2 linked regions of the Homo sapiens genome follow. The protein of the gene in region 1 interacts with the protein of each later gene in a pairwise test. Each region holds a gene or a part of one and is shown on either strand. Other genes may lie near its edges. The genes, in order: RRP7A and CDCA7L.

Region 1 (15,841 bases):
CTGGAGTGCAGTGGCGTGATCTCGGCTCATTGCAACCTCCGCCTCCCGGGTTCAAGCGATTCTCCTGCCTCAGCCTCCTGAGTAGCTGGGATTACAGGTGCATGCCACCACGCCTGGCTAATTTTTGTGGTTTTAGTAGAGATGGGGTTTCATCATGTTGGCCTGGCTGGTCTTGAACTCCTGACCTCAGGTCTACCCACCTAAGCCTCCCAAAGTGTTGGGATTACAGGCGTGAGCCACGGCGCCTGGCCTGGAATGGGGGTCTTATGGTCTACAGTCAAACAAAGTAGGCCAGAGAATTTCTTTATGGCCAGTTTTTGCACAGATAGGGCAGAGGGGAAGTTAGAGTCATATTTTAGGTTGTATGGCTGGTTTGGGGGAAAGGGGTTCTGGTTTCTATGACTCACCCTGAGGAAGAGAGATTCTAGTTTCTATGGCCAGCCTCAGGGCAGAATGAGGGGCCACAGACAGGAGGGCAAGAGAAGGTCAGAGAAACTCCTTCGCATGGATGACACAGACCCCCATCTCCAGGCCTGAAAGCACCAGGACTAGGAGGAAAAGCAGCCCCCACTCAAGAAGGTGGCAGCGGGGCACAGATGAGAACAATGCTGCAAAATTTGTGTCTACCCTTGGAGCAGACCAGACCAGATACAGAGTTTCAGCTGACGGGAGCCGGTCCCTGGCTGGTGCTACCCTCCTCCCCACCCTGGCCTGGAGTCCTGCAGCATGCCCCAGAAACAGTGCCAGCAGCCAGGCCGGAGGAAGTGGTGCCCAGCCGTGCAGACACGGCTGGCTGGAGGGAGCCCTGGACATTATGACTGTCATGGGGCCTTCGTCCACTAAAAAAAAAAAAAAAAAAAAGTAAAAATTGTATATTATGCCTGCATGGCTAAAAAGATGAAAATAACCAGGCTGGGCTGCTTATAAATCAGTTACATGTTTTTTTCTGGTTTTAATAGAAATTAAGACGTTTTTGTGGGCCCACAGTGCCCCTCAGGCACAGTGCCTGCTGAGCCGAATGTGGATGTGGGCTCTGCCTCTGGGGTTAGTGTCAGGAAACTCCTGCTTCTTCCCTTGCAGGATCAGCAAGGGGTCACTCTGGCTTTCCTCATGGCAAAGAAACTTCCCATGGGCACCTGCACACACCCCAGGCCTCCTCCCTGCCAAGGCAGGGATTCCTGTGCCACCTGCTGGGGAGGGCAGCCCAGCAAATGAGCCAGCTGCATGGGTGGGAGTTGGTGACTGTTCTTCGTTTTCTGCAATGGTTCATTTTTTGTGTCAACCTGTTGGAGCCATGAGGTGCCCAGTATTTGGTTCAACATGATTCTGGGTCTGTCTGTGAAGGTGTTTCCAGAAGAGATAAGCATTTGCATCAGTAGACTGAGTAAAACAGATGGCCCTCCCCAGTGTGGATGCGCCTTGTCCAATCCATTGAAAGCCTGATGGGAACAAAAGACAGAGTGTGGTGACGCATGCCAGTAGTCCCGACCACGCAGGAGGCTGAGGCAGGAGGATCGCTTGAACCCAGGAGTTGCAGACCAGCCTGGGCAACGTGGCGAGACCTCATCTCTACAAAAACATAAAAAAAAAAAAAATTGAGACGTGGCACACTTGTAGTCCCAGCTACTCAGGAGGCTGAGGCAAGAGGATCATTTGAGCCTGGGATATCGAGGCTACAGTGAGCCACGTTCACACCACTGCACTCTAGCCTGGACTACAGGGCAAAAGTCTGTCTCTTAAAAAAAAAAAAAAAAGGCCCGGTGTGGTGGCTCACTCCTGTAATCCCAGCACTTTGGGAGGCCAAGGCGGGTGGATCACCTGAGGTCAGGAGTTCAAGACCAGCCTGGCCAACATGGTGAAACCACGTCTCTACTAAAAATACAAAAATTAGCCGGGCATGGTGGCAGGCATCTGTAATTCCAGCTACTCAGGAGGCTGAGGCAGGGAGAATTGCTTGAACCCGGGAGGCGGAGGTTGCAGTGAGCCCATATTGCACCACTGCACTCCAGCGGTATACTCTGGGTGCCATCACTTAGCTCCTCGGACCTCCTCAGTATCCTAATCACCCTCAGCAGATGGCCTGGAGATTGGCTTCTTAGTTTTAAATTCTAGGACCATCTACAAGCTTGCTTTTGGTAAGTCACTACAGACAAATACCAGTTAAAGCACTCAGGAAGATTCAAGCTCCAGTGAAATACTATGCATTGCCTAAAGCATATTCCTGGGTGAAAGAGCAAGACTCCTTCTCAAAAAAAAAGAAAAGAAAAGAAAAAGAAAAAGTAAGATAGAATTCACTCCATCTGCCTGACTGTGAGCTGAGCTGGGATACTGGTCTTCTCCTGCCTTTGAACTTGGACTTGGACTGCAATGACACTGTCGGCTCTCCTGGTTTTCTTTTGCTTGCTGACTGTAGATCCTGGGACTTCTCAGCCTGAGCTCAGCCAGGGCTGCATTTAGGCAGAAGTAGGGCTCAGGGTAATTAGATGGGGCAGATGGGGCTCCTCATCTATTTTGGGGCAAGTCAAGCTAAGACACCTCCTTGAGAATGGCTCTGCAGAGAACTGCCTGACCCCAGGCAGTAAGAGGTGAAGCTGCCACGCCTTCTCCTAATTCAGGAGCAGAGTCTTTGCCTTTAGAAATTCCCTCTGCTGGGCCGGGCGCGGTGGCTCACGCCTGTAATCCCAGCACTTTGGGAGGCTGAGGCGGGTGGATCACGAGGTCAGGAGATCGAGACCATCTTGGCTAACATGGTGAAAACCCGTCGCTACTAAAAATACAAAAATAAATTAGCCGGGGGTGATGGTGGGGGCCTGTAGTCCCAGCTACTCAGGAGGCTGAGGCAGGAGAATGGCATGAACCTGGGAGGCGGATCTTGCAGTGAGCCAAGATCGCACCACTGCACCCCAGCCTGGCTGACAGAACAAAATCTTGTCTCAAAAAAAAAAAAAAGAAATTCCCTCTGCAGTTATGTTAAGGGTGGGATGGAAGTAAGTATAAACTTCCATGCAAAGCAAACAAATAGGATATAATAAGGATTTGGGGCTGGGCTGAGTGGCTCAAACCTGTAATATTAGCACTTTAGGAAGCCAAGGTAGGAGGATTGGTTGAGCCTGGAAGTTTGAGACTAGCCTGGGCAACACAGTGAGACCCCATCTCTTAAAAAAAGAAAGAAGACTTTTTAAAAGTGTTACTAGGCCATTACTGTTGATTCCCCATTATTCGGGATTCGATCATCCAGTCTGAGGATCACTGAAGCCTTTTCTAGGCTGTTTTGATTCATCTTTTGTGTGTGTGTGTGTGTGTGTGTGTGTGTCTGTGTGAGACAGAGTCTCGCTCTGTTGCCCAGGCTGGAGTATGGTGGCGTGATCTCAGGCCACTGTAACCTCCGCCTCCTGAGTTCAAGAGATTCTCCTGCCCCAGACTCTTGAGTAGCTAGGATTATAGGTGCGCGCCACCACGCCTAGCTACTTTTTATATTTTTAGTAGAGACAGGGTTTCACCATGTTGGCCAGGATGGTCTCGATCTCTCGACCTCGTGATCTGCCCGCCTCGGCCTCCCAAAATGCTGGGATTACGGGTGTGAGCCACCATGCCTGGCCTTGACTCATCTTTTCATTCTTTCACTAATCTTGGCATTTCCTAATATTAATGAAAATAAAAGGAAATGAGAGTGAAACAACAGGTTTACTTTCCTCTATTAGCTTCTGAGGGAAAAGGAACGGACAAGAGCAGGTTGGGCGACCAGCTGGCATTTGCCCCTCTGTCAGGTGACCTCGACATCCCCGCATTGCAGAAAGGACCCTGAGAGCTGACCTTACCTGTGTGCGTCTCCCCAACGAAAACTCTTAGCAAGTCTGACTTACAGACCACTAGAAACCCGATCGGGACCCAGAAACCCCACTCCCAGGTATTCACCCAAGAGAAGTGAAAACTTCCATTCATACAAACACCTGTGCGTGAATGTTACAGCAGCTTATTCATAATCGTCGAAACCTGGAAATCGCCCACATCCTTTACTTGGTGAATAGATAAATAGACCACACTCCATCCAGACAGTGGAACATTTCTCAGCAATGAAAAGGAACCATACAACAATGTGGGTGAACCTCAAATCACGATGCTCAGTGAAAGAACCTGGACTCGCACGATTCCACTTTCAGGACTCGCTGGAAAAGCAACGGGAGAACAGAGCAGTGGTTGCCAGCGGCAGCACGGGAGTTCTGGGAGTGACGGGATGTTCCCTATCTTGACTGTGGTCATGGTGATAGGACTCTATGCATTTGAACTATATACCAAAAGAAGTGAATTTTACTGTGTGGACATTTGAAAGTATTTTTTAACCATTAAAAAAGAAAAATTGAGGCTGGGCACAGTGGCTTATGCCTGTAATACCAGCACTTTGGGAGGCCGAGGCGGGCGGATCACAAGGTCAAGAGATCGAGACCATCATGGCCAACATGGTGAAACCCTGTCTCTACTAAAAATACAAAAAGTAGCCGGGCGTGGTGGCGGGTGCCTGTAGTCCCAGCTACTCAGGAGGCTGAGGCAGGAGAATGGTGTGAACCCGGGAGGCGGAGCTTGCAGTGAGCCGAGATCACACCATTGCACTCCAGCCTGGGTGACAGAGTGAGACTCCATCTCAAAAAAAAAAAAAAGTGACTTCAATTTTTCCTTCTCCTCCTCTTGGCTTGTAAAAGGGTTACCCCTGCGTGGCTTCAGAGTGTTTAAAATCGCTTACCTCCTCTTGAGGAGGTTTAACATTCTTTCCTTTTTTGAGACAGAGTCTTGTTCTGTCACCCAGGCTGGAGTGCAATGGCTTAATCTCGGCCCACTGCCACCTCCACCTCCCGGGTTCAAGGGATTCTCTTGCCTCAGCCTCCCAAGTAGCTGGGATTACAGGTGTGCATCACCACACTCAGCCAATTTTTGTATTTTTGGTAGAGACGGGGTTTCATCATGTTGCCCAGTCTGGTCTCAAACTCCTGGACTGAAACGATCCACCCACCTCAGCCTCCCAAAGTGCTGAGATTACAAGTGTGAGCCACTGCGCCAGGCCTCAATATTCTTTCTAATAAGCTCACTTGGGTTCTTATTCAGTGTATTCCTTTTCCCAGGCTGCTGTAACAAAATAATATAAACTGGGTGGCTTAAGACAACAGAAATTGATTTCTGGAGGTGAGAAGTCCAACACCAAGGTGTCGGCAGGGCTGTGCTCCCTCTGAAGGTTCTAGGGAAGAATCCTCCCTCACTTCCTCCGGCGTCCAGTGGCCACAGGCATCCCTTGGCTTATAGCCTCACCACTGCCATCTCTGCCTCCATCTTCCTATGGCCCTCTTTCCTGTGTGTGTCTCCTAGGCATCTTATAAGGACACCAGCCATTGGACAAAGAGCCCACCCTAAATCCAAGATGATTTTATCTTGAGTTGAAAGGACCTGATTACATTTGCAAAGACCCTGTTTCCATATTCAGGTCACATTCACAGGAATGGAAGAGTGGTGGGGGAAGGGAGAGGTTAATACTTGAACATGGCTGGGCGCGGTGGCTCACGCCTGTAATCCTAGCACTTTGGGAGGCTGAGGCGGGCAGATCACGAGGTCAGGAGATCGAGACCATCCTGGCTAACACGTGAAACCCCCGTCTCTACTAAAAATACAAAAATTAGGCCGGGCGCGGTGGCTCACGCCTGTAATTCCAGCACTTTGGGAGGCCAAGGCAGGTGGATCACGAGGTCAGGAGATCGAGATCATCCTGGCTAACATGGTGAAACCCCGTCTCTACTAAAAATACAAAAAATTAGCCAGGCGTGGTGGTGGGCGCCTGTAGTCCCAGCTACTCAGGAGGCTGAGGCAGGAGAATTGCGTGAACCCGGGAGGCGGAGCTCTCAGTGAGCCGAGATCGCGCCACTGCACTTCAGCCTGGGCAACAGAGCAAGACTCCATCTCAAAAAAAAAAAAAAAAATACAAAAATTAGCCAGGCGTGGTGGCGCACGCCTGTAGTCCCAGCTACTCGGGAGGCTGAGGCAGGAGAATCACTTGAACCCGGGAGGTGGAGGCTGCAGCAAGCCAAGATCGCCCACTGCACACCAGCCCGGGAGACAGTGTGAGACTTCATCTCAAAAAAAACATACTTCAACATGTCTCTTGGGGAGCACAATTCAACCTCTATATTCGGTAAGACTCTCTTAGACAGGGCAGGGCAACCTGGCCCTGCACTCCTTGGCCATCCTCTGCTGTCACCCCCAGACCTCAGGCACGGCGGCCCCTCGCTCTCCCCCGTCTTTTCTCTCCGGGCCTCTGAAGTCACCAGTTCTCCATGCCCAGCCGTGGCCTGTGGGAGGGAGCTGGGGGGGTGAGCTGGAGCTGCCACTTAGCGGCAGAGTCGCAAACTCACCGTTCCTAATGAAGCCCGTCGCTTCTCCCTCCTCCTCCTCCCAGCAAGCAGGAAAAAAAAAAAAAGTTGACTACTGAGACCACATGCTAGGAAATCCATGGGTGGGTGCTCTAGTTGACAAGTCCCACTTGAGCCCAGCCATATTCGGCCATTCTTGCACTGCTATGAAGAAATACCTGAGACTGGGGAATTTATAAAGCCAAGACGTTGAATTGGTTCTGCAGGCTGTACGGGAAGCATGGCTGCATCTGCTTCTGGGGAGGCCTCAGGGAGCTTTGACTCATGGTGGAAGGCGAAGTGTGAGGGGTCACTTCACATGGTGAAAGCCTGACCAACAAAGTGGGGGGTGAAGCAGCCACCCATTTTTAAACAAACAGATCTCGCGAGAACTCGCGATCGCAAAGACGCAAAGACGGCGCCAAGCCATGAGGCCCCCATGATCCAAACACTTCCCACCAGGCCCCACCTCTAGCACTGGGGATTACAATTTAACATGCGATTTGGGCGGAGACAAATACTCAAACTCTATCACCAGCCATCCCTGCTGAGATGCCGGACTCATCTGCTGAGATGCTGCGATGTGAGTGAAGTGACTTGGAACCTTTAGTGCAGCCCATATGCCAGCTGAATACCATCAAATGCCCTCAGTCAGTGCCACAGGGAGAAACAAAATCTCCTAGCAGAGCATTGCCCAAATTCCTGACCCATGAAATACATGGGCAGTGGTAATTATAAAGAAAGTGGAGTTAATTGATCGAGTGGCATCAGTGGGCTGAAGGAAGAAAACAACAGGCCTCAGGACAGCCATTTATCAACTTATAGCCCAAGGTGAAAATCAGGAGGGGCTTCCAGAGACGTGTTTAAAGACAGGTCACATTGTGCTGATAAAGGCCTAGAACCTGATGAGAACTGTGGAGTTTGAATCAGGGCAGATGAACGGCTGTGCTAAGTGCTGTGCTCCAGTCAAGGAGCACAGAAGTGAAGGAGCGGACACTGTCACCTAGGGCAGGGAACGTCTGGATAGATGGGCTCAAGAGTCTTGAATTCTAGGCTGGGTGCAGTGGCTCACACCTGTAATCTCAGCACTTTGGGAGGCCGAGGTGGGCAGATCATCTGAGGTCAGGAGATCAAGACCAGCCTGGCCAACATGGTAAACCCTGTCTCTACTAAAAATACAAAAAAGTAGCTGGGTGTGGTGGCACATGCCTGTAATCCCAGCTACTTGGGAGGCTGAGGCAGGAGAATTGCTTGAACCCGGGAGGTGGAGGTTGCAGTAAGCTGAGATGGCAGCACTGCACTCCAGCCTGGGTGTCAGCAGAGTGAGACTCCGTCTCAAAAAAAAAAAAAAAAAAAAAAAAAAAAGGCTTATGCCTGTAATCCCAGCACTTTGGGAAGCCGAGGTGGGCGGATCACAAGGCCAAGAGATCGAGACTATCCTGGCCAATATGGCGAAGCTCTGTGTCTATCAAAAATAAGAAATTTAGCTGGTCATGGTGGTGCACACCTGTAATCCCAGCTACTCAGGAGGCTGATGCAGGAGAATTGCTTGAACCCAGGAGGCGGAGGTTGCAGTGAGCGGAGATCGCGCCACTGCACTCCAGCCTGGCGACACAGCGAGACTCCATCTCAAAAAAAAAAAAAAAAAAGTGATGTTGTGTGGCCAGTCCTGATATCCATCGAGATGGCTCCTTGAAGCGTGGAAGCAATACATGAGAGGGAGATAACAGAACGATGGTGGCAGGGCACTGAGAAGGAGCCAAAGGCCTCGGGGAGGGGGATGTGCAGGCACAGATTTATTATGCAACATCTGAGAAGCCAGATGACCGTATTTCTGGAGGGTTCACCAGAGACTGCTTTGACTAGTGGGGGGTCTAGGCATCAATGGGCAATCGGCATGGCCGTCCTCTGAGGCCAGGGTAGAAGAGGGCAAATAGGACTGGAGCCGGGCTCGGAAAGGTCAGCAGGAGATAGGATTCCAGAGAGCAGAGGTTCGGTTGATGTGACTGTCAGAACAGGAGCAAGGCCAGAGTGGCTGCCAGGGATCCTGGGCGCACAGGAGTCTCTGGTGAATGCTAGTAGACCACGGTATTCCCAGGGGCCACGGAAGCCCCAACACTGCTTGACTGCGCTAAGCAAAGAAAGATCAAAAACAAAAAACGAGCGAACAGGACAGTAATGGCAGCTGCTGATGGAAAATCCCAACCCCTCATCCAGTTTCCAGGCCTAAGCTAGGCCTCAGAACCAGAGGTCACTGACTGAAAGGGAGGCTGGGTCCCCTCCAGACCACAAATATTTGCAGTAGTAGGCTCCTAATCTTTCCCCAAAGGGGCCGACAGCATTTCCAAGAAGCAACTGTACACTGGGAAAAGAGAAATAGTAGATACATCAAGGGCTGGCGGGTACACAGTCTGAGAGGCCCTTTGGAGTCCAGAAAAGTGGAGTCCTTGGACTTCATTTCTCCCCTATCTACACTTGCTCCCTTGGCGATCACACCCTCTCATAACTTTCTTTTTTTTTCTCTTTCTTTTTTTTTTGAGACAGAGTCTCGCTCTGTTGCCCAGGCTGGATTGCAGTGGGGCGATCTTGGCTAACTGCAATCTCCGCCTCCTGGGTTCAAGCGATTCTCCTGCCTCAGCCTCCCGAGTAGCTGGAATTACAGGCATGCACTACCACGCCCGGCTACTTTTTGTACCTAGTAGACACGGGGTTTCACCATGTTGGCCAGGCTGGTCTGGAACTCCTGACCTCAAGTGATCCGCCCCCCTCGGCCTCCCAAATTGCTGGGATTACAGGCATGAATCACCGCACCCGGCTCCTCTCGTAACTGTCAATAACCTATCCATGGCCAGTCCCGTGTGTATTGCTCCAGGCCTGACATCTCTGATGTTCAGTCTGTTCAGTCTCATATCTAAGTGCCCACCTGACATGTCCCCTGAGTGGCCTAATGGGCATCTCACCACGGCTCACAGAGAACTGATCTACTCCATTTTCACCCCCAAGCAGGCCCCTCTCCTGCAGTCTTCCCATCTCAGTCAATGGCAACACCATCCTCTTAGTTGCTCAGACTGAAAACCTAGCAGCCATCCTGGATTTCTCTCACACTGCCTATTCAACGTGTGAATGCATGAGTGGAAAGCTGAGTTCGCACTCGTGACTGGCCGGGGTCAACTCTGACATTCGCTCCCACTTTCGCGCGCTGATTTATCTCTGAGCGGATGAAGGTTGGGCCATGGCGGGCGGGGCCGGGGAGGCGGGCTTGGAGTGAGGGGGCGGGGCAGGCGCCACGAAAACGCGCTCGCGCCGGCGCCGAACCGCAACTCCCGGCGGCCCCCGCGCTCCCGGGTGGCAAGATGGTGGCGCGCAGGAGGAAGTGCGCCGCGCGGGACCCGGAGGACCGTATCCCCAGCCCACTGGGCTACGCAGGTGAGGGGCTCCGGGACGCGAGACCGGGGGCGGTCAGGCATCGCCGGGAGGTGTTTGGGGGTTGGCGACGGCCGGGGGTCCCCAGGAGCGGCCGCACGGTTGGGTGTGAGCCCCGGTGGCCCGTGGCCCCAGGCTCCGCAGGTCTTGAGGCTCCGGGGTCCCGAGGACCCAGGCGGCGCCCTTCTGCCTGCTCACTCTCCCGGGGCGAGCCCAACTTGGTCCACGCTTCCCTTGGGTGAGCCCGCCTCTGTCCACACTCTCACCCAGGACAAACCCATTTCCGTCCACACCCGCTCGTCCAGGTGAGCCCATCCCCTTCTCATCGCCTCTGCTCCTAGTCCATCCCCCATCAGCTCTTACCTGGGCTGTTATAGGCCCTCCTACTCGGTTGCCCTCCTTCTCCTCTTGCCCCTGCTTCTGTTCTCCACCCACGTGCCAGAATGTTCTTTTAAGGACATTTAGATTCGATCATGTCTGCCGCGCCCACGATAGGCGCCACACCTACTGCATTCCCTCCAGTGGCTTTATCAGGTAGCTTCTAAAACAAAAACCAGACTTCTTAACCTGTGTGGGCCACGTGGTCTGGCTGGTGCCGACCTAAAGCTCTTTCTGTTCCTCTGAGGGAACATGCTTTTTCCCCCCTCTGGGTTTTTGCACGTGCTGTGCCGGTTTGTTGCACAGTGGCGTTCTGGCCTGAGCTTTAATGTTGCTTCCTCAAAGAGGCCATCCGTGATGGCCTATGGAAAGAAGACCTCTGCCACCCCATCACCCTGTAATGTTTCTTTCACAATTGATACAAGTTTGCTGTATGCTTGTTAATTGTCTTCTCCGTTATTGCAACTGAGCTTCCTGAGTTCAGGGACCGCAGCTCTACGCCAACCGGTACTGTGACGGAGGTGTGAGAAAAATAGAAGCAGTTCCTAGCTTTATGAGGATTACAGTCATGGGTGTGCCAGCGATTAACCAAAGAATCTCATCAATATAGCCTCCAGACTGTTAAGAGAAGCTGTGAAGGCACAGGCAGTGGGATCTGAGCTGGCAGGAGGGGCGGAGGTGATGCTAAGGCTCTCCTGAGGAAGCGAGGTTTGAGCTAAACCTGAGGTGAGCGGGAGGGAAGAGGGTGACACGCCAGGTAGAGAGGCCAGCATGTGTGAGGCCCTGGTGTACCCGGGGGAACAGAGAATCCAAGGTGCTGGGGGAAGATGGTACGAGAAGAGGTCACAGTGACAGGCAGGGTCTCACGGGGCTTCCAGCCATGGTTAGGATTTTGGCGTTGACTCCAAGAGCCGCAGGGTTCGAGCTTCCCTCTCATTGCGCCCCCATCTGTAATCATTGCCCATTTATCTTCTCTCTCCCTGCACCGCCTTGGGAGGCCCTCCTGGGCAGACTCTTAGAGCCCGCACAGGCTTTGCCAAAGAGTAGGGTAAGGGGGGTTGGTGAAGGGATGGATGGATCGATGAACAGATAGGACTAGACAGGGATGTGGAGAAAGGAAGTTGTGTGAGTGTCTCGCTGGCCTCAGCTCAGGGTAGCCTGGCCATCCCTCCCCTCCCATTTCCTTTCCAGCTATTCCAATCAAGTTCTCTGAAAAGCAACAGGCTTCTCACTACCTCTATGTGAGAGCACACGGCGTTCGACAAGGCACCAAGTCCACCTGGCCTCAGAAGAGGACTCTTTTTGTCCTCAATGTGCCCCCATACTGCACAGAGGTGAGCTAGTGTCTGTCTGGGAGGAGACCTGTGGGCTCAAGGTGGGGGCTCCCATGGCCTCCACCAAGTCCTTGGTGGTGAGACGGACACAGCTAATGGGAGCCCCAGAGGAGAGTGTCAGGAGGGCTACCGTGATCTCCAGTCAGGAAACTGGCTTTTTAAAGATGTCTTTAAAAGTATAATCCTGCCAGGCACGGTGGCTCATGCCTGTAATCCCAGCACTTTGGGAGGCTGAGGCGGGCGGATCACCTGAAGGGAGGAGTTCCAGACCAGCCTAGCCAACATGGTGAAATCCCGTCTCTACTAAAAAATAAAAAATGAGCCAGGCATGATGGCATGTGTGGGTAGTCCTGGCTACTAGGGAAGCTGAGGCATGAGAATCCCTTGAACCCGGGAGGTGTAGGTTGCAGTGAGCCAAGATCGCGCCACTGCACTCCAGCCTGGGCAACAGAGTGAGACTCTGACTCAAAAAAAAGAGAAAAAAGTACAATCCTAAGTAGCCCAAGGCATTTTTACATATTACCCAAAGTTGTCTGAATTACGTGTTTTCTTCCAGATTGTACATGTCCATAATTTAAAAGTAGGAAAGTATAAGAAAATAAAAAGTGCCTCTAATTCTATCCAAACACAACTGTTAATTTTTTTTTTTTTTTTTTTTTTTTACAAAAACTAAGCTAAGGGAATTGCTGGATTTATTTATTTATTTATTTATTTAATTTATTTATTTATTTTGAGACAGAGTCTCCCTCTGTTGCTCAGGCTGGAGCACAGCGTTCACAACTCACTGCAACCTCCGCTTCCCGGGTTCAAGTGATTCTCCTGCCGCAGCCTCCCAAGCAGCTGGAATTACAGGCGCCCACCACCATGCCCGGCTCATTTTTGTATTGTTAGTATAGACAAGGTTTCACCATGTTGGCCAGGCTGGTCTCGAACTGCTGACCTGAAGTAATCCGCCCCCTTCAGCCTCCCAACGTGCTGGGATTACATGCGTGAGCCACCGCCCCTGGCCAAGGGAATTGCTGGATTTGTTTTCAAAAAAGAAACCCTAATTTGTAAAAGATTCCTCTAAACTTAGAGAAAAAAAGAAGCATGTAGAAGAGGGGGTGTGAGTTCTGACCTTTTTTGAAGTGCAGCATGTGTGCCTGGAAGGGCCCCAGTGGCAAGTGTCCAGCTCGCTGCATCCCAGAGACAGAACATAGCTGTGTAGTCAGCGCCCAGGTGGAGACACAGCAGCACATCCCAGAACCCCCGCTGCCTCCACCACAGACAACCACCATCCCAACTGTCATAGCATAGGGTCACTACTGCTGATTCAGGTAGTAAAACTTGTCATAGGAAATCAGAATAACAGCAAGAATGTCCCCACCTGTCTCCAGTGAGAGAGCAGGAATATGCCGGGCACAGTGGCTCACGCCTGTAATCCCAGCATTTTGGGAGGCCGAGGCGGGCGGATCACCTGAGGTCAGGAGTTCAAGACCAGCCTGGCCAACGTGGCAGAACCCTGTCTCTTCTCAAAATACAAAAATTAGCCACGTGTGGTGGTGGTGGGCGCTTGTAATCCCAGCTGCTCGGGAGACTGAGGCATGAGAATCACTTGCAACCCGAAGGTGGAGGTTGCAGGACTCCAGCCTGGGCTACAGAGCAATACTCCAACTCAAAAAAAAAAAAGAGCAGGAATATCAACCTCCATATTGTCCCTGGGGAACAGGTCGGAGGCCATGGTGCCCACAGTCTCCCGGCTTGGGCAGATGTGGCTGTGGCTGAGTCCTTCAGCGGCGCTGGACCCCTGGCAGCGCCACCCATGGTGCAGGGAGGCTTTGGGATGGCCCTGCGGATGCTCACACTTGGCTTCCCTCTCCCTGCGGCAGGAGAGCCTGTCCCGCCTCCTGTCCACCTGTGGCCTCGTCCAGTCTGTAGAGTTGCAGGAGAAGCCGGACCTGGCTGAGAGCCCAAAGGAGTCAAGGTCGAAGTTTTTTCATCCCAAGCCAGTTCCGGTGAGCCGCCAAGCCCGGGGTTCCACTAGAGTGAGGGGGGTGGGGCACTGTCCCCAGTGTGTTGGGGGAGCTGGCAGTGGGACATCAGAGCATTCTCTGGTCCTGAGCCCATCCTCACCGTGTGTGGTGTAAGAGACTGTCTGGGTGACAAAGCCTGCGATTCTTTGCCAGATTTGCCACATCCTTGCACTTCCTGCCTGGCTTTTTCTGTCCCGTGTTAAAGCTCACGGACCGTCTCTGCTGGCCACCTGCAGGGCCTTCCCCGGCTCCCCTCCTGCTTCCCCACTGAGGGAGCTCCTTCCCCAGGCTTGGGGGCCGGGTCTCCAGGAGCACTGTTGTTCACAGCTTTCCCAGTGGCCCTGGAGCCCACACCTCCTCCCCACACAGTGGCATCTGGCATGGTGTGTGCGCCCAGGCCTGGCTTCCAAAAACCTGCCCTGGCCCAGGGCGACCCCTGTGTTTCACCGCATCCCTCCCGTGACTGGAAGAAAAGAAGCCTCTGTATCCCCTCTTCCTGGGGAGGAGTTGGGAACAGCCGTCACTTCCCGCAGAAGCAGGATTACTGGAAGTGTGGCTGCCTCTGACCTGGATTATGGGATGGCCTGTGGTTCTCTTCATGGCTCAGGAATAGCCTAGCACCATCTCCCCTGGTGTAGCTACCACCTAGGCTGAGGGCAGGCCTGGAGACCTTGTGCCAGACGTGGGAAGGAGCCCCCAACCTCTGACATCTCTCTCTCTTCAGGGTTTCCAGGTAGCCTATGTGGTGTTCCAGAAGCCAAGTGGGGTGTCAGCGGCCTTGGCCCTGAAGGGCCCCCTGCTGGTGTCCACAGAGAGCCACCCTGTGAAGAGTGGCATTCACAGTTAGTACTGCGGGAGGGGTCTGGCGCCTCCTTTCTGGGCTCCGGGTTGGCAGGACACTCTATGGGGACAGTGTCTGAATGTCACAAGCCAAGTCCATGCTCCCTGAGAGCAGCATGTGGAGGCCTGGGCAGGAGGACCATGGGGCTGTGTCTGGGTCCCCAGGGAGTCATTAGCCTGAGCCCCTGGCACAGAGCGGCACAGGCATACTGGGCAGGCAGAGCGAGGGCGCAGCTTGCAGCCCCTGGGATCTCCTTAGCACCTGTGCCCCGGGCCCTGTGGGAAAAGGTCCCAATTTGCCTGGCAGGCCCTGGGGTGGGGCCCAAATGCCAGGCCTGAGGAAGCCCCGTTTCCCTGGCTCCCTTTTCCTCAGAGTGGATCAGTGACTACGCAGACTCTGTGCCCGACCCTGAGGCCCTGAGGGTGGAAGTGGACACGTTCATGGAGGCATATGACCAGAAGATCGCTGAGGTAGAGGCCCCGCGGGGTCGGCCGAGCCCCGCATCGCCCGTGTGGCTGTGGGAAGGTGGCGCCCCAGAGGGAGGGCAGTGGTGGCCTGTCCTTGGCCACTCTGTAGAGGCCAGGCTCCCTGTTTCCCTGCTGGATCCTGGGCTGCCTGGCTGGGTGACACATGTAGTCTCCACATGTCCTACAGTGGAGAAGGAGGCAGTGCCGGCAGGTCCGTGCCCTCCCCGCCATCCTTAGCCCCAACACTGTGCTGGGAGGAGGGGAGCAGCCCTCCCCTGCGGGGGCTCAGGGCAGTTCTGACTTTGGGAGGAGGGCGTGGAGGGCGCGCTGCTGGAGGCTGCAGGAGGTCCCACCGGAGGATGGGATCACCTTCCTTGCAGGAAGAAGCTAAGGCCAAGGAGGAGGAGGGGGTCCCTGACGAGGAGGGCTGGGTGAAGGTGACCCGCCGGGGCCGGCGGCCTGTGCTCCCCCGGACTGAGGCAGCCAGCTTGCGGGTGCTGGAGAGGGAGAGACGGAAGCGCAGCCGAAAAGAGCTGCTCAACTTCTACGCCTGGCAGCATCGAGAGAGCAAGATGGAGCGTAAGCCACCCCCAGTCCATCCTCAGACCCCTCGGCCTTGGCCCCAGCCACGGATGAGGCCTGTGGCCAGTGCTCCTGAGGGCGGGCGCTGGACTTGGTGGTCGAGGAGGGAGGGCGTCCCTAAGCACGGGGCTCGCACCAGACTCTGTGGAAAGAGGCCCAGCCTGGCAGCACCCTGTGTGGCGGTTCCCCATCACCCCCTAGGGGCAGATGCATTTGCTCAGTGGGTGGGGACCCTAGGTCATCAGTGCCCACCTCTGGGTCCCTGTGCACTTAGTGCTGGCGCTCGTCAGCCTCCAGCTAACGAGGAGTTCAAGTGCAGAGGGGGCTTCTGAACCCACTGTGGGTGCAGAGAAGGTGCTGCAGAGTATGTGTGTTGGGTTGGTGGTGGGTGTGTGTGTGTGTGTGTCTGTCAGGT
Region 2 (15,400 bases), on another chromosome or scaffold:
GCGTTAATTACTTTGATCTCTAGCACTCACAAGTTAGAGTTCTCTGACAGGTAGATTCCTGGAGGTTCACATTGTGTCCTAGTAGTAGAATGGCCAAAATCTCTACCCTTCAGTGGCATTTTCTTCTGAGTTAATTGTGGCACTCAAAATTCCTCATTCTGCCTTGACCATGGCCTCTCCAAAAAGGCAGCAAATTAAACCCACTTTGCTTCCACTGGGCAAGTCCAGGAAGGGAAGCAGTTAATTATATGTAAGTGAAGTGCCTGCTTAATTACGTGGGCCACTGTAAGTTCTGGCCTGGTGGGAGCTGTGCTTTCTGAGATCTCTGGAGGCTCCCTGGTCTCTGTCGTCCTCATCTCATTTGGCATCTCCACAGCAGTTGACCCCACCAGTAGACCTCCTTCTAACCACCTGGGTTTCTTCCTCTCTGTTACACCTTTTGCTCTTTGTTATTATTATTTTCTTTCTTTCCAAGATGGAGTATCATTGTGTCACCCAGGCTGGAGTGCAGTGGCATGATCTTGGCTCACTGCAACTTCTGCCTCCCGGGTTCAAGCAATTTTCCCAGCCTCAGCCTCCCGAGTAGCTGGGATTACAGGCTCCCACCACCACGCCTGGCTAATTTGTGTGTGTGTGTGTGTTTTTTTTTTTTTTTTTTTTTTTTAGTAGTGATGGGGTTTTGCCATATTGGCCAGGCTGGTCTCAAACTCCCGACCTCAGGTGATCTGCCCGCCTTGGCCTCCGAAAGTGCTGGAATTAGAGGCGTGAGCCACTGTACCTGGCCTGCTTTTTGTTACTGTCACTTGTTTTCCCTGTTCGTGTCCCTAAATGCAGATGTTCTCTAAGGGTTTGTCTTCAGTCTTCTCACTTAGTGAATCTTGTCTGTTGTCCTGCTTTGAGCTGTTACTGTATTCTTTTGTGGAGCTTGTCTTCTCTCTCCAGCCCCAGGTGGTTTCTGACTACCAGTTGGACTGGTCCTGGTTGCTAAGGGAGATCTGAAACTCACTTCTCCTTCCCTTGGTTGTCTTTCTGGCTTCCCCCTTTCCCCATCTTGATTTCCATCTTTTGTTCTTGGCCTTCCCTCCCCTCTTCCATCTCCTTGACTCCCGTCCAGGAGTTGATGAAACTTCTGCTGTGTTCCTGGTGTCCATCCTTCCCTTCCCTCTGCAGCTGCCGTAGCCCTCGTAGCTCTTACCCGAATGCTCATCCCTTCCTACTAGGATCTGTTATAGGATTGACCTCCGGTCAGCTCCTCCCTTAGCCCTCCATCTGAGCACAGTCAGGCGGTGGGGAGAGCAGAGCCTGTTGGATCCACCTTGAGGAGCATTTGAGCAAGGCAGAACATGTCTAAAGGGCCGAGCACAGAGCCTGGCAGGCACCGGGCATTAAGAAACAGAACAGCTGCTTCTGCTGCTATGATGACTCCTTTTGTAGTCAGGTGTGTTCTCCCCAGGGAGGACAGTGTGCCAACTGCTTTTCATACAGATACTGCATTTAATCCACAGACCTCCCTGGGAAGCTGCAGTTTTGCAAGTGATGAAACTGACGTTCAGGAAGGTGTAATGACTTGCCCAAGGCCCCACATCTGGGAAGTACCAAGCTGGGATGTTCCAAATCCAGGGCCACCACTTCTCAGCCTCTTACCCCGCCGGGTCTCTTTCCTACCTGCTATGCTGCAGGGCACAGGAACTGAACTGACACTCTCATTATCCACTGTTCTGCCCTTTCTGCCCACTGGTCCATGCTGTTCCTGCCTATCTGTGCTCTCACCATTTTTCTAGCCTCTACCGTGGCTCACATCCAGTTATGCTACTTCTTCCATGAAGTCTTACTGGATTTTCTTTCCCTCCGTGTGCCATATTGCTTTGTATCCCTTAGAGCACTGACCCTCACCAGGGTTATTCGTGGACCTGTCTGCCTCCCTGTTAGATTATAAACTCCTTAAGAAGGGGAGACCTCATACTTGAATGGTGCTTTCTAGCTTCCCTGGCTCTGACTTTTCGTCCTCATGTATTGTTCCTTTCCTCTGATTTCAAGCATCCAACACCCCACCTGACTGTATACAGTGAGCACGGGGGGTGTTGTTTGCTGGGTGCAGTTGAAATGGGGTGCTTGTCTGGCTGTCTGGTTCAACAGGCCATTGCTCTCTGGTCTGTTTCTTCCATGTCACATGGACTTCAAAATAAGTTTATCCACCTATGTTAGCTTCTCCTCTGATGTGTTATTTGCTTATGGTCCTGATCATGGTAGATGACCAAGGCCTATAGCATAGCACCCAGTATTGATTTTGAAGATGAATGAACCAGTGCCAGAGAGCAATCAGCAGTGCCAGGGTTTCTAACTCAGAATGCAGTGGAGCAGTGTGGAGTGGAGATTGGCATCATACAGACCCACATGGAAAACAGTACTTACACACTTTGGAGTAAGGAAACTAAAGCACAGGCCTCAGTTCAGGACAATGGTAAGTTGTTTTTCTCTATCAGGACTGACCATCAAAGATGGTAATCTCTCCCAAGATGCCCATTGCCCTGGGAGGCCAGCACACAGGATCAAAATAGCCAGAAAAACTGGAAGATGGGAACTCATAGCTTCAAGGCTTGCCCTGTTCCCTTCAGGCCCTAGGCAGGGGCTTTAGGTAGTTGATGAAATTTGCACACAGAAATACCACTCTAAATTAGCCTGCAGGGGCTGGCCCAAGGCTCTGTGAGCCAGATGTTTCTTGCACTGAGAGGCCTCAGGTGCATGGTGGGTTTCCTTAGCAGCAGCTGTGTACCATTCTTCCTTAATAATCAAGCCCTGGCTGCTTCTCTACCCCGACCCCACAGGCTCATGATCCATTTTAACCAATAGAGAGAAGCTGCATGAACTTGCACACAGTATGTGTATGCTAACTCTGGTCTCCCTTAAACACGATTTGAATTTCACTTTAAAGAAACTTCCCTTTTGTGTGTGCAATTTTTTTTCTCAAGCAGCTGCACTACAGCTATCAACAAAGGAACAAAGTAATTCAGCTCTGAGCAAACTCACTCCAATTACCCATAATAATTCATAGGAGACATTTTTAAGCTTACAGAATGCTAGATGTAGGCATTTCTTTCTGTGTGCCCCTGTAAGTTTTTCCACTTGTCTATTATATCTATCTTTCCCCAGAGATATATGAGCTCAAAGAAGTATATAATTAAAGGCGGGGAAACGCAGTGGGGTAGATACAGATTCCCCGCCAAGTGTGGTGTTACAAGGGGTCATTGCTATATCAGAGATGGGGGGAAGAGACGTCAGAGGAAACTGGGGACAGACTCTAGTCTTGATGAGGTGTGGCGGGCTTGCAGGGGGCTGGTCTCGTGGGTCTCCCTTTGGCCTGCAGTTTGTTATTTCCTCTTTCTTTCAAGTATACTATTAAGAGAGTTGGGTTTCCATCTTTGCACTATTTCAAAAGAAAAAGTATTAGAAAATGCCTTTTCTTAAAGAGTCACATTGCATCTTTCCTTCTGCTCACTTGCCACCTAGCCATGGTTGTTCACCTCTCACCTCCTGCACGAGAGAAATTCCTGGGGGTGACCTTGAATGAGCTTTCCATCAGGCCCCCATGGTGTCTGCTCATGGAGCAAGTCTAGGCTCTCTGGTGGTGGGCGGTGGGGGCTGAGAGAGGCCCCAGCCTTTTCCTACAGAGAAGCTCGCTGTTGGTGAATGGGAGGCATGCTCACCCACTTGGAGGAGACTCCGGCTTTGAAAGGCTGTTGGAAAGGGAAGCCAACACGTGGGAGGGAGCCAGGTTTTCTCCTCATATCTTCTTTCCATGTGTTTTGGTTCTATGTGAAAGCAGACGTGTCTGGTTGCCAGCTTTGGCAGGAGAAGCTGAATTCCATGAGCACTTACCAGTCACATTAGAAGCTGATTGAGACTACACCCAATTTTTAAAAATTGTCTGTCTTGTAGGTCTGAATTTTGTAAGCTTTAGAAAATGTGTATATATGTAATATATACGTGTACGTATGCGGGTTTTTTTGAGAGAGGGTCTCACTCTGTCACCCGGCTGGAGTGCAATGGTGTGATCTTGGCTGCAACGCAGGCTGGAGTGCATTGGTGTGCAGCTCACTGCAGCCTCGACCTCCCAGGGTTGGGTAATCCTCCCACCTTAGCCTCCCAAGTAGCTGGGACTACAGGTACATGCCACCAGACCCAGCTAATTTTTGTATTTTTTGCAGAGATGAGGTCTCACTATGTTGCTCAGGCTGGTCTTGAACTCCTGAGTTCAAGTGATCTGCCTGCCTCGGTCTCCCAAAGTGCTGGGATTACAGGGTGAGCCACTGTACCCGGCCAGTGTTTTTTTTTTTTTGTGGTAAAATACACATAACATGAAGTATATCATTTCAGCTGTTTTTGATGTGTACAGTTCAGTGCATTAAGTACATTCACATTGTTGTCCATCCATTTTCGTCATCTCCATCAGAAGCTCTGTACCCGTTCAGTAGCTCCTCATTCTACCCTTCCCTGGTAACCTCTATTCTACTTTCCGTCTCTGATGTATGTGTGTCTTTAATTTAGCAGGATGTGCGCTTTCATTCCAAATACTTCACAGAAGAGCTAAGAAGAATTTTTATAGAGGACACTGACTCAGAGACTGAGGATTTTGCAGGATTTACGCAGAGTGATCTGAATGGAAAGACTAACCCAGAAGTAATGGTAATAATTACAACAGGAAGGGATGTGGGTGGTAACGTTTTTAATCCTGTTTCTGAAAGAGTTTTACTTGTAAGCAGTCACTTCACAAGTGAAAAGATTTTTCTTACATATTTATCTTACAAGCAATTAACATAACCTAAAAAAATTGCTCCTGGAAGGCTAATCCCTGGTCCACCAGTCCATTATTCTCTTAGAGAAAATCCATTCATCTTCTCCTCGTGCCTTAGGGGGTTTTTGGGGATGTGTCCCAGGCGTCCTTTATTGTCCTTCTCAAAGAATTTATCTCTCTTGGCCAGGCACGGTGGCTCATACCTGTAATCCCAGCACTTTGGGAGGCCGAGGCGGGTGGACCTGAGGTCAGGAGTTCAAGACCAGCCTCACCGATATGGTGAAACCCCATCTCTCCTCAAAATACAAAAATTAGCCGGGCGTGGTGGCGGGCACCTGTAATCCAAGCTACTCGGGAGGCGGAGGCAGGAGGATTTCTTGAAGCCGGGAGGCAGAGGTTGCAGTGAGCTGAGATTGAGCCACTGCACTCCAGCCTGGGTGACAGAGCGAGACTCCATCTCAAAAAAAAAAAAAAAAAAAAAAAAAAAAAAAAAAAAAAAAATTATCTCAAGAGTTCCTTAAACCTCTTTTATCTAAAAGTTTATCTTAGATGACAACTTTCTTGAGATACTTTCTTACTGTGTGTGAAGTGACAGTTTTTGGTTTGAAGTTAATTTGGCAAAAATTTGGCTGTGGTACAAACTTGGTGTTCCCCATGCATTGTGGATTTGGATTTGTCATGCTTTTTAGTGTTAAAGATGACCCAGGCCTGCCTGGATTCTGGAGGGAAGTCTACTCTCAGCACTTCCTATGAACAGACTTGTTAGTTATTTGTTTGTTTTATCCTGCACAGTTAGGCTAGTTTACTGCCCACTCGTGTTTGAACCTGAAGGTAACTTTAAGGCACAGCCTTCGGATTTAAGTGCAGAAATGTTTTCTGCTAAAAATAGCATACATTTATGCAAAAAATAAACATGCTACTATCTTCTTCAGTATGAAGATGGAACGTAGAGTTTACGCCTCTTCACAGCCAGAAGCTGCTAAAGACTAACTTTTGGCAGAGACTGTGTAGAGGTATAAATAAGCCGTGACTCCTAGCCTGCCATGTCCCTCACTTGTCCTAGGAGAGAATGTAGAGCATAAAAGCCCGCATGGTAGGCTGCTTCGTTTGATAGTGATTTTTTGCTATGAGTAGCAACATAGAGCTGTGCCAGCCTGGAGGCCCCAGGTCTCCTTTGGCTTTCTTTGCAGAAGCTGTTTGTGTGGCAGTTCCATCAGTTCTGGCCAGCAAGTCCCTAGCTTCTTGCCAGCACGATATTAAGATGCTTCTAAAACCCTAATGGGCATCATCAGTTAGCAATGTACTTATTTTCTGTTCTTTAGTGAAGTGATGTCTGGTTATTCGAAGCATTTGCATTTCTAGTGAGAGAAAGTGAATTACCCCAGAAGTCTTCCCTCCCACCTGCCCCCAAGTCTATGGACTGTGTGATGTAGTTACATAGATCATGATATAGCTTACAGTTCAGCACAGGCCCTTGCAAATTTTATTTTAGAATCCAGTGAGAAGAAAAGCATTGTTGCCTCCCAGCCCACCCTCCTGCCCACCCCTGTGGGAACTGGCGAACCTATCTTTCTTGATAATGGGACATTGCTGTAACTTGGTTTCCAGGGGTCTGCTGGCCGGATGCGAAATAACCACATCCATGTACTACACTTGTGCTCTTCTCTTGGGTCTGATTCTGGGCTGCTGTGTACCATTTGTTCTTTCCTTCCTTCAGGCCTCTGTAGTGAGCTGTTCCACATCTGGTAAAGAGAGGCCTGTCGATGATGAGGATGGTAGATAAATGGATCAAAACTGAAGTTCTTCCCTGACAGTGTCCCCTGAAATTGGGTTCCTTTGCAGTACACCATTTTGAATTCTGAAGCTATTAATATGGGAAGTTCAGGGTATTAAAAAATAGATAAATCAGTGCCATATAGTCTTACTCCTCACTTGGCTTGGTGTGGATATACCAGGGTTGGCAGTTATCTGCGTTTTTTTTCTCCCTGTGTCTTATTTCTAACTTTAGTCCAACGAGAGTTTGGGGTTGATGGTCGTCACCGGGGAGGAAGCAGAGTCCCTGAACTGATCCTGGGTCCGTATCGGTGCCATTCCGTGTTCTTGGTAGATTTTCAGAATTCCCAGATAATGGTTCCCAAAGTTTTCTAGCTTCTGGTCATGGAAGGATGCCCAGAAGACGTCCTAGATCTTACATACTTAAACCTGTCTCTGTACCACTGCTAAGAGTCCCGTCACATCCAAGCTGTCACCTAGGTGATGTATCCCTGTTACTGCCTTCCATATTTACTGTGTTCTCACTTGTAAAACAGAGCAATGTTTGAATGCTGGAGACCTCTGCCATGTGGAATTTGAAAATGTCGGGTGAGGATTTCTTGAGTTGACTGAGTGGTGTTTTGCTACAACCTGTAGAGCTTTGTGACCTGGTTTCACCTCATGGCTCTGAGGGTTCCAGAGAAGGGAAAGGTGCCCCTTGACTGAGGACGCAGTGGCAGGTCATCTGCCTGTCCTGGGTCACTGCCCTGAGGTGCAGTCAGCTCTCCCGCCCTGTTATTCAGGAGTCTGGTTCCTGCTATTTAGAGGAGACCAGTCAGCATTTTTCCCCCGTTGCGTCCTTTCCTGTCTGAAGATCACATCTGTCATGCTGCTGTCTCTCCTTTTCTGTGACTGTCTCTCCTCTTGCTGGTGCTCCCTGGTTGTCCCACGGTGGAGGAACCCACCCTGTCAGTGTTTTGCTTACAGCCCTCATGCTCTGAATGGAACCCATTTCTGTCGCGGGTATGATGGTGCACAGTTCAGTAGTAGGTTGCCTGCTCTCTGATTTTATTCATCAACCAATTTCTTGCACATTTAAAGGAAATTCAGAGGGAACTCATAATATGAAGGGGAAGCTTTTCATTTTTCATGTTTTTTCTCATAATGCTGTCAGTTGTTTTAAATGCATGTCTTTTTTGTGGGTCTGTAACAGTGTCTTTGTGCTTTTTCTTGCTCTTATTTTATTAGGTCGTGGAGTCAGATTTGAGTGATGATGGCAAAGCATCTTTGGTGAGCGAGGAAGAGGAAGATGAAGAAGAAGATAAGGCTACCCCTAGAAGAAGCAGGTCTAGAAGAAGTAGTATTGGTCTTCGAGTAGCCTTTCAGTTCCCCACCAAGAAGCTGGCCAACAAACCAGATAAAAACAGTTCTTCCGAGCAGTTGTTTTCTAGCGCACGCTTACAGAATGAGAAAAAAACAATTCTTGAAAGAAAGAAAGACTGTAGACAGGTGATACAAAGGGAAGATTCTACCTCTGAGTCTGAGGATGACTCTCGGGATGAGAGCCAGGAGAGTTCAGATGCTTTGCTGAAAAGGACCATGAACATCAAGGAGAACAAAGCCATGGTGAGGCTTCACGGAGGGCGTCCTGGGAGTTGGCACCAGGCTCTGGCAGCAGTTGCTGGGCTCCCAGAACCACTTTGCTCCTACAGCTGCTGCTGTTGCTTTGGCTTCTGTCAAGAAAATATACTCTGGGTATTGTGTATCCTTTTACTTTTCCAGAACCCAGAGCAACTATTACATGATCAGCTCTGGTTTGGGAACAGAAAGAGATTCCCCAGCACCATTTTTAGCCCCTACATGGTGCCATAATGCTGCTTACTGTTGACCAAGCTAAGTTCTAAGTATATAGTTGTGTTGGGGATGAGAGGGGCTGAACAACTAGCCCGTTCCCAGCAGAGTAAAGCAGGGGAAGTGGGATGTCACCAAGTCCACTGAGAAGTTGCAAGGAGCAGGTTGGGCAGGTAGCTTTTCACCACAGAACCACTCTTCTATGGTGACCAGCACTGGTTCTGAGACTTCTGAAGGAATGGAAGAGGTCTAGGAATTAAAACAACCTCAACAGTGTTAATTCACTCTACATTGTCTTCATTAGAACAATGAATGGAACCAGGTGAAATCTTTGTTACATATATTTGGTTTTTCTGTATATAATCAATTACTGTTAATCTGATCATTGTAGAGAATCATTGTTTGCTTCATAATTGTTTATCTACAGTTTTTTTTTAAATAGTTCTACCACTTATCCCTTTTAGCATTTTGGTAATTTTTTAATCTTTTCCTTTTAAAAAAAGAATGATGCAGTGATACTGTATATGCAAGCTTATATGTCTAATATAAATTACTTACAAAAATGGAATGCCTACTTTCGGATTATTTTTATCCTAAGAAACATTTTTACTTAGCTAAGGGAAATTTTCAGCACTGTATCCATCTGCATCTTTAAAATAAGCTATTTTCTTTATGATTTTTTTGGTGGCACTCATATAATTGTATAAACTAAAACGAATCCTAATTAAATTCTCTGGCATATTAATGCCTATTATTTGGTATTATTAGTTCACGTAGGAATATCTTCATAGATTACTTTGATTGATGAGAAATTAATCTATTTAAAGAATCAGACTTTTGGAGTTCTAAATAACCATCGAAATAATCTAGTTGAGCTTTTTCTTTTTTGAACATCCTGAAACTTGAGACTCACGTGTGCAAAATGAATTGTCCCAGGGTCACACCGCCTTGGATTAGCCTCCGAGTCGGGATCGGAACCTCATGCTCCAGGTCTTGATCATTCCAGGACTGTTTTCATAGTGTTGTGTTGTCCTTATATATAAGGAATAGGCTAGTGTTCATTCATATGAATGATGACATCAGCATCTCAGGTCTGGAGGTACAATCTTTACATGTGAGGTTAAAAGTATAACTGTTGTGGGTTATATAAACTATTCAAGTTAGGTTTCTTATGGTGGCAAAATGGAAGACTTGAGATAGGTGTTGGATGACCTAAACCTGGAGCCCTATTTTTGTAAGATTCTTTCTTTTGTTCTGAACTTCAGCTTGCCCAGTTATTGGCGGAATTGAACTCGATGCCAGATTTCTTCCCAGTACGAACCCCAACCTCAGCTTCTGTAAGTAGAACTCCTTATAATTATACCAATACTGATATATGGTGATCAGCCACCAGACGGCTTTTATTCGAGAGAGTCCCCAGTTGTCTCTGTCTGTGCTCTTGATTTCAGAGGAAGAAGACAGTGAGGCGGGCCTTCTCGGAGGGACAGATCACGCGGCGTATGAACCCAACCCGGAGTGCGCGGCCTCCTGAGAAGTTTGCTCTAGAGAACTTCACTGTCTCAGCCGCTAAATTTGCGGAAGAGTTTTACAGCTTCCGAAGAAGGAAGACAATTGGGGTATTTTCTGACTAATACATGAATTAGTTTTTGTCTGAGCTACCATCCCTCCAAACGTGAACGCACGTCACTGTCACCCCAGGGCTGGTTCTGACCCCGTGGGTCTGCGGCAGCTGAGAACTTGCATTTCTCTCTGCTTCCCAGGTGATGCCATTGCTCCTGAGATCACACTTTGAGAAGCAGCCCTGGTCTAAGCTGGAGGTCACAGAGAGAGTCTTTTATCCAAGCCGAGCTGAGAAGCAGCTCATTTGTTAGGACCCTGCTTTAATCTCTGCTGCAGGCAATAAAGAAAAGTGCAGTGATTCCTCCTTGCCTTTCTGTTTTAGGCATGAGGCGTTTCAAGCGCTTTCAGTTTGGAGGGAGCAACTGTGGACCCATTTGTGGGTTTGGCTGTTCAGTGTGGTTCACCTCTCCACAGAGTTTACAGCAAAGAACCAAAAACCTTGAGTTCCTCCTTTATGATTGTATCGCCTTGCTGAGAAGGAAGCTTGGCAGGTGGCAGGAGCTCAGTAAATAACTAAATGAAATGGCTGCAGGGAAATAGAAGAGGGACGGGGTTAACATTAATGGTGCTAGATCTTTGAGAGTTTAAAATATTTATAATTTTTTTATAACTGCTCAACACATCTCCATGTTCTGCTTGTGTTCATTGTGCAGGGGAAATGCCGGGAGTACAGACGACGTCACCGTATATCTTCTTTTCGGCCAGTGGAGGATATCACCGAAGAGGACTTAGAAAATGTTGCCATAACTGTTCGAGATAAAATCTATGATAAAGTTCTGGTAAAGTATACATTAATTGTCATTCTTATTGGGAGTCGAAGGCATTGGTATTGAAATCTCACTTGTTTTTAAACTCTATCAGGGCTTATGCCATCTCACCAAGGGCTCAGAGCCAGGCTCTGAATTGGAGGGTCAAAAGTCAGCTGTACCTGGGAAAGGGGAGGCAGCCTAGTGCAGTAATTCCCATCTGGACGGCGGTCTCTCTTAGGGATGCGTAGAATCTGGGGGAAGGGAACGGTATAGTTTAAAAGGGATTTTTATATGTAACTGTTAATGGTTTAAGCATATAGTTTTATGTTCTAAATATTGAAAAAAGTATATTTGGGGGGTAATATAACCATAGAAATTAAAGTTTGGCAGAATATCTTTGGTAGGAAATGGGTTAAATTTCTTCTAAATGGTGATTTAGAGGGAGGCTTTGCGTTCTGCATTTTTTTTGTGTTTTTCTGGATATGTAACGGGACACTGTCAAGTTTTAAATTTAGTTGCCAATATTTAAAAAAAAATAGATCTCACATTGAAGGTATCCAGGTCTGCAGAGCTAGGCTGGGGCCGAGGTGATGCCACCCAAGGCTCATTGCCCCTCAGTCACCTGTCACCTTTCAGGGGCTCTGCCACCCCTGCCTCAAGCTTTTCTCTGGTCTCTCTTCCTGACAGCCTGATCATTTCATTCCTTCTGGGTCTCTGCTCAGCCTCATCTGACCTAATATGTTTCTCTGGCCACAGACCTGTGATGGTTACATTCTAGAGCAGTGGTCCCCAACCTTTTTGGCACCAGGGACTGGTTTTGTGAAAGACAGTTTTTCCATGGATTTGGGGGGCAGGAAGGGGATGGTTTCAGGATGAAACTGTTCCACCTCAGATCATCGGGCATTAGATTCTTATAAAGGGTGCACAACCTAGATCCCTCACATGTGCAATTCACAATAGAGGGTTTGTGCTCCTATGAGAATCTAATGCTGCTGCTGATCTGACAGGAGGCAGAGCTCAGGCGGTAATGCTCGCCCGTCCGCTGCTCACTTCCTGCTGTGCAGCCCGGTTCCAAACAGGCCACAGACTGGTTCTAGCCTGGGGGCTGGGGACCCCGGTCTAGAGACAATGCTGTGGTTCTTAGGAAAACAGTCCTGCTTGATTCGAGGAGACGGGGGTATTTCTTCATATACTTGGAAATGCACATGGTGGCATCTGGCCTCATTGGGCATCAGCATATCCCTGTGTTCACCTGCTCACTGCCTTCCCCCTGTAGGGTAACACGTGCCATCAGTGTCGACAAAAGACCATCGACACCAAGACAGTGTGTCGGAACCAGGGTTGCTGTGGTGTGCGAGGACAGTTCTGTGGACCATGCCTGCGGAACCGCTATGGGGAGGATGTCAGATCGGCATTGCTGGACCCGGTAGGAACAGTGTTTGCATTTGTTGTAAATTGTATTGGTGAAGGAAGCAAGCTATAAAGATGGGCCTCCTGGGTTCTCACTGGGAACTAGGGAGCTCCAGAACTCTGGTTTTTCCCTTCCATTTGTATCTTAAGGCTCCAGGGAAAATGAAAAATAGGGATTCCTTCTGGAAGGAGAGCAAGCTGACCAGTGAATAGAAGAATTAATGTTGTTAGATTTTCCATTGTCAGAGCAAAACTTGCTTACAGTCCTCTAGTTTTATGCAAGTAATCCCTGTACCTGTCCTTCAGCAAAGTGATTTCCCTCTGATTTGTTTTGTTTTTCCTGGGCCAGGCTGAGAGGGAGGTGGAGATTGCAGTATAGAGTGCTCTCTGTGTGCCTGGCACTGTGCAAGCTGTCGCTCACTCTGTTACCATAAATTTGTTTAATCCCATGAAATAGGTGTATAACCTCTCTCAGCTCCCTCGGTAAAATGAGACATAGTATCATGGTGAGTAGGCACGACCTTGAGCCTGGGGCAGTCCTGCTCCCGAGTGTGACCTCTTAGGCAGCAGTCATGGGGTAAATATATGGTCCTCAACTGACAGACAAACAAACTGCTGCTCAGGTTAGTCATTCAACAATAAGCACACATTGAAAGGGCTGAAATTCATACCTTGATATTTTGGAAACCTTGTGCTCCTAAACCAGGGCTGACATCCTGGGCCTGTGACCTGCATGCTCGCACAGGGCCCTGTGCTTGGCCAAATGCTTGTGAAAATCTCCATAATTTTTAAGCAAGGAGCCCTAAAAGGTGTCATTTTTCAGTGTTTGCATGTGACGTGGGGTGATTCAGCCTTCCTGCCTTGTGAGGAGCCCCCTGGGACGTAGACTGAAAGATGCCATGTGATTAAAGGTTGGAGGAGAGGCCAGCTGAGCCATTCTGGATCCGAATCCCAGTTCTTGCCAGACCCTGTAGATAATGAGCGAAGTGTCTGCTGTCATCTCTCTGTTAGGATTGGGTGTGTCCCCCCTGTCGTGGGATCTGCAATTGCAGCTACTGTCGGAAGCGTGACGGCCGCTGTGCCACAGGAATCCTCATTCATCTGGCCAAGTTTTATGGTTATGACAATGTTAAGGAATATCTGGAGAGGTAAGTAAGTCTCTAGCAGCTTACAAAACAGCTTGAAATCTTGAGGCTGAGCACAGGAGACCCTCTGGGCAAGTAGTTGTTGCCTTCCCGTGTGACTTACTTACTTATATAAACCACGAGTACCATCCATTCTGTATCTGTTTGCATTGGAAAAGCTCAGGCCTGATATTTTCCCTATTAGGGAATCTTCTCCTTTGCTAGATTTTTCAACTCAACTCCACGTTGCCTTTAACCAAAATTTCTCCTTGAGGTGTATGACAGAAATGGAAGGAACAAACAAACAAGGCAGGCTGAGGGGAAAGACACAGATTATGAAGAGGCAGCCATAATCCTAGTGCAGAGAGAGAGTTCAGGGCAAGAGGACAGAATGTGAGTTACAAGTTTCATTTATGTAATTAATAAACTCTGAATCGTGGTTCTGGAATGCGGGAGTGAGGCAAGTCATGCTTGGGGCGTACTACACCAGAGGGTATACGGATATTGATGCATAAATTGTCAGGATTTCGAGTGTCAGGAGATCTGGGTTCTGGCTTTGTACTCTTAGATGATTGTGGAATCTCTCAAGCCTAGAATGCCATTTGTGTATTTGTACTACTTTACCAAATACTTCTCATCTTTTTCCCAGCTTACAAAAGGAGCTGGTAGAAGACAATTAAGAGGAAAACAAACAGAACCAGCCACCTCACCATAGAGTACTCCAACAAGACATGCATACCATTGGTGCCTAAGAAAGATTTTTTTACAGTTGTGTTTTTATACAGAAATTCTTTGTAGAAATTACTATTTTTTGTTAAAGATTGTTTATATGCTTACAAAGATTTCTCAGGAAGACAGCAGAGCAGAGGAATCTATATAGATGTATGCACAGACCTGTCTGTATGCTGAACTTTGTTAAAAATATCTGCCAGTTATTAAAAAGCACAGTTTAAATGGGGTGGGGTTAAAGTTCAGGTAAGTAAGTTAGAGAGAAAACATTGTATGATCAGCTCCTGCACTTGATCTATCTATCTTTGGCTTCCCAAACAGTAACTCACTCCAGGCCAAGTGTGCCTTAGCACGAGTGACCACAGTTTAATAGACCACACACATCGTTTAACCTGCTCTTGGTCATTGGAAATTTACACTGAACAAAGTGCAATTAACTGTAGAACAGTTTTATTTTTATTAAAACTTGACTGAACAAAAGGGGACCATCAACATTGTAGACACTGGACACTGGAGGCCTTACAGAGTGCTAGCCTCTTCCTTCAGGACTCACCTGGGGCCTGCTGCTTTTATATTTTGAAAGAGTTTAAGGGCTAATAATTTAATTTGTTGTTTGTTAAAAATTAAAATCTCCGTTCTTTCCGGCTGCATTGCTTTTGCATGTTCACATATGATGTACTTTTATGATGTACTTTTTTTTTTTTGAGATGGAGTCTTGTTCTGTTGCCCAGGAGGGAGTGCAGTGGTGCAACCTCGGCTCACTGCAACCTTTGCCTCCTAGGTTCAAGTGATTCTCCTACCTCCTGAGTAACTGGGATTACAGTCGTGTGCCACCACGCTCAGCCCTGAGTTAGTTTCTAGTATTTTTTTCTGACTTTCACTCTAAGGATAGCGTTGAAAAAAGAATGCACGTGTGAGTTACTAAAAAGTTAGAATAATGTGCATGGGAACAGTGCAGCAACATGCTAGAAAATCCTCACTGCACTCCAGCAGAGGCTAGAGGAATGCCAGTGTTACCTTACGCTTCTAGAAGCAGAGCCACTCCAGCCAGAACCCATTTTGCAGTCTTCTCTTCGCTCTTCAGCCTGAAGGTCCAGATGTAGCTGGGGCCTCTCAGTTTGGTTCTATACACAGGGCACTCGTAGGTCTGTTTGGTTTCTTGTCTGTCCACGGGGGTGGCTTTTGCAAAGATGACCGGCATAGGGCATGCCAGCTCCTTGAGACGGGCTTCAACAATGGTTCCTGCTTGGGTGTCCCAGCGGGCGCCTATGGCAAAAACACAGCGGTTGCAATTGTGTGGCAGCTTGCTACTAATGATAATGATCAAGTAAGTTGTTTGATGCAATAAACATTCAACATTCTGGTTTTGTCAT

The links.
Region 2: the proteins of RRP7A (region 1) and CDCA7L interact in binary tests that used the Homo sapiens proteins (3 or more experiments, as listed by UniProt).

The regions. Positions count from the first base shown.
Region 1 is NC_000022.11:42,513,688-42,529,528, reverse strand, and holds the start of RRP7A (ribosomal RNA-processing protein 7 homolog A), read left to right. Parts: upstream 1-9,732; 5' UTR 9,733-9,742; coding exon 9,743-9,815; intron 9,816-10,175; exon of another isoform or gene 10,176-11,113; intron 11,114-11,381; coding exon 11,382-11,524; intron 11,525-13,392; coding exon 13,393-13,518; intron 13,519-14,260; coding exon 14,261-14,378; intron 14,379-14,749; coding exon 14,750-14,847; intron 14,848-15,224; coding exon 15,225-15,423; intron 15,424-15,841. UniProt on the Homo sapiens protein: Nucleolar protein that is involved in ribosomal RNA (rRNA) processing. Also plays a role in primary cilia resorption, and cell cycle progression in neurogenesis and neocortex development.
Region 2 is NC_000007.14:21,900,900-21,916,299, reverse strand, and holds part of CDCA7L (cell division cycle-associated 7-like protein), read left to right. Parts: intron 1-4,545; coding exon 4,546-4,683; intron 4,684-7,792; coding exon 7,793-8,170; intron 8,171-9,660; coding exon 9,661-9,732; intron 9,733-9,843; coding exon 9,844-10,011; intron 10,012-10,668; coding exon 10,669-10,794; intron 10,795-12,040; coding exon 12,041-12,190; intron 12,191-13,185; coding exon 13,186-13,322; intron 13,323-13,947; coding exon 13,948-13,978; 3' UTR 13,979-15,045; coding exon of another isoform or gene 15,046-15,293; 3' UTR 15,294-15,400. Other genes in the region: DNAH11 (dynein axonemal heavy chain 11), read right to left, coding at 15,046-15,293. UniProt on the Homo sapiens protein: Plays a role in transcriptional regulation as a repressor that inhibits monoamine oxidase A (MAOA) activity and gene expression by binding to the promoter.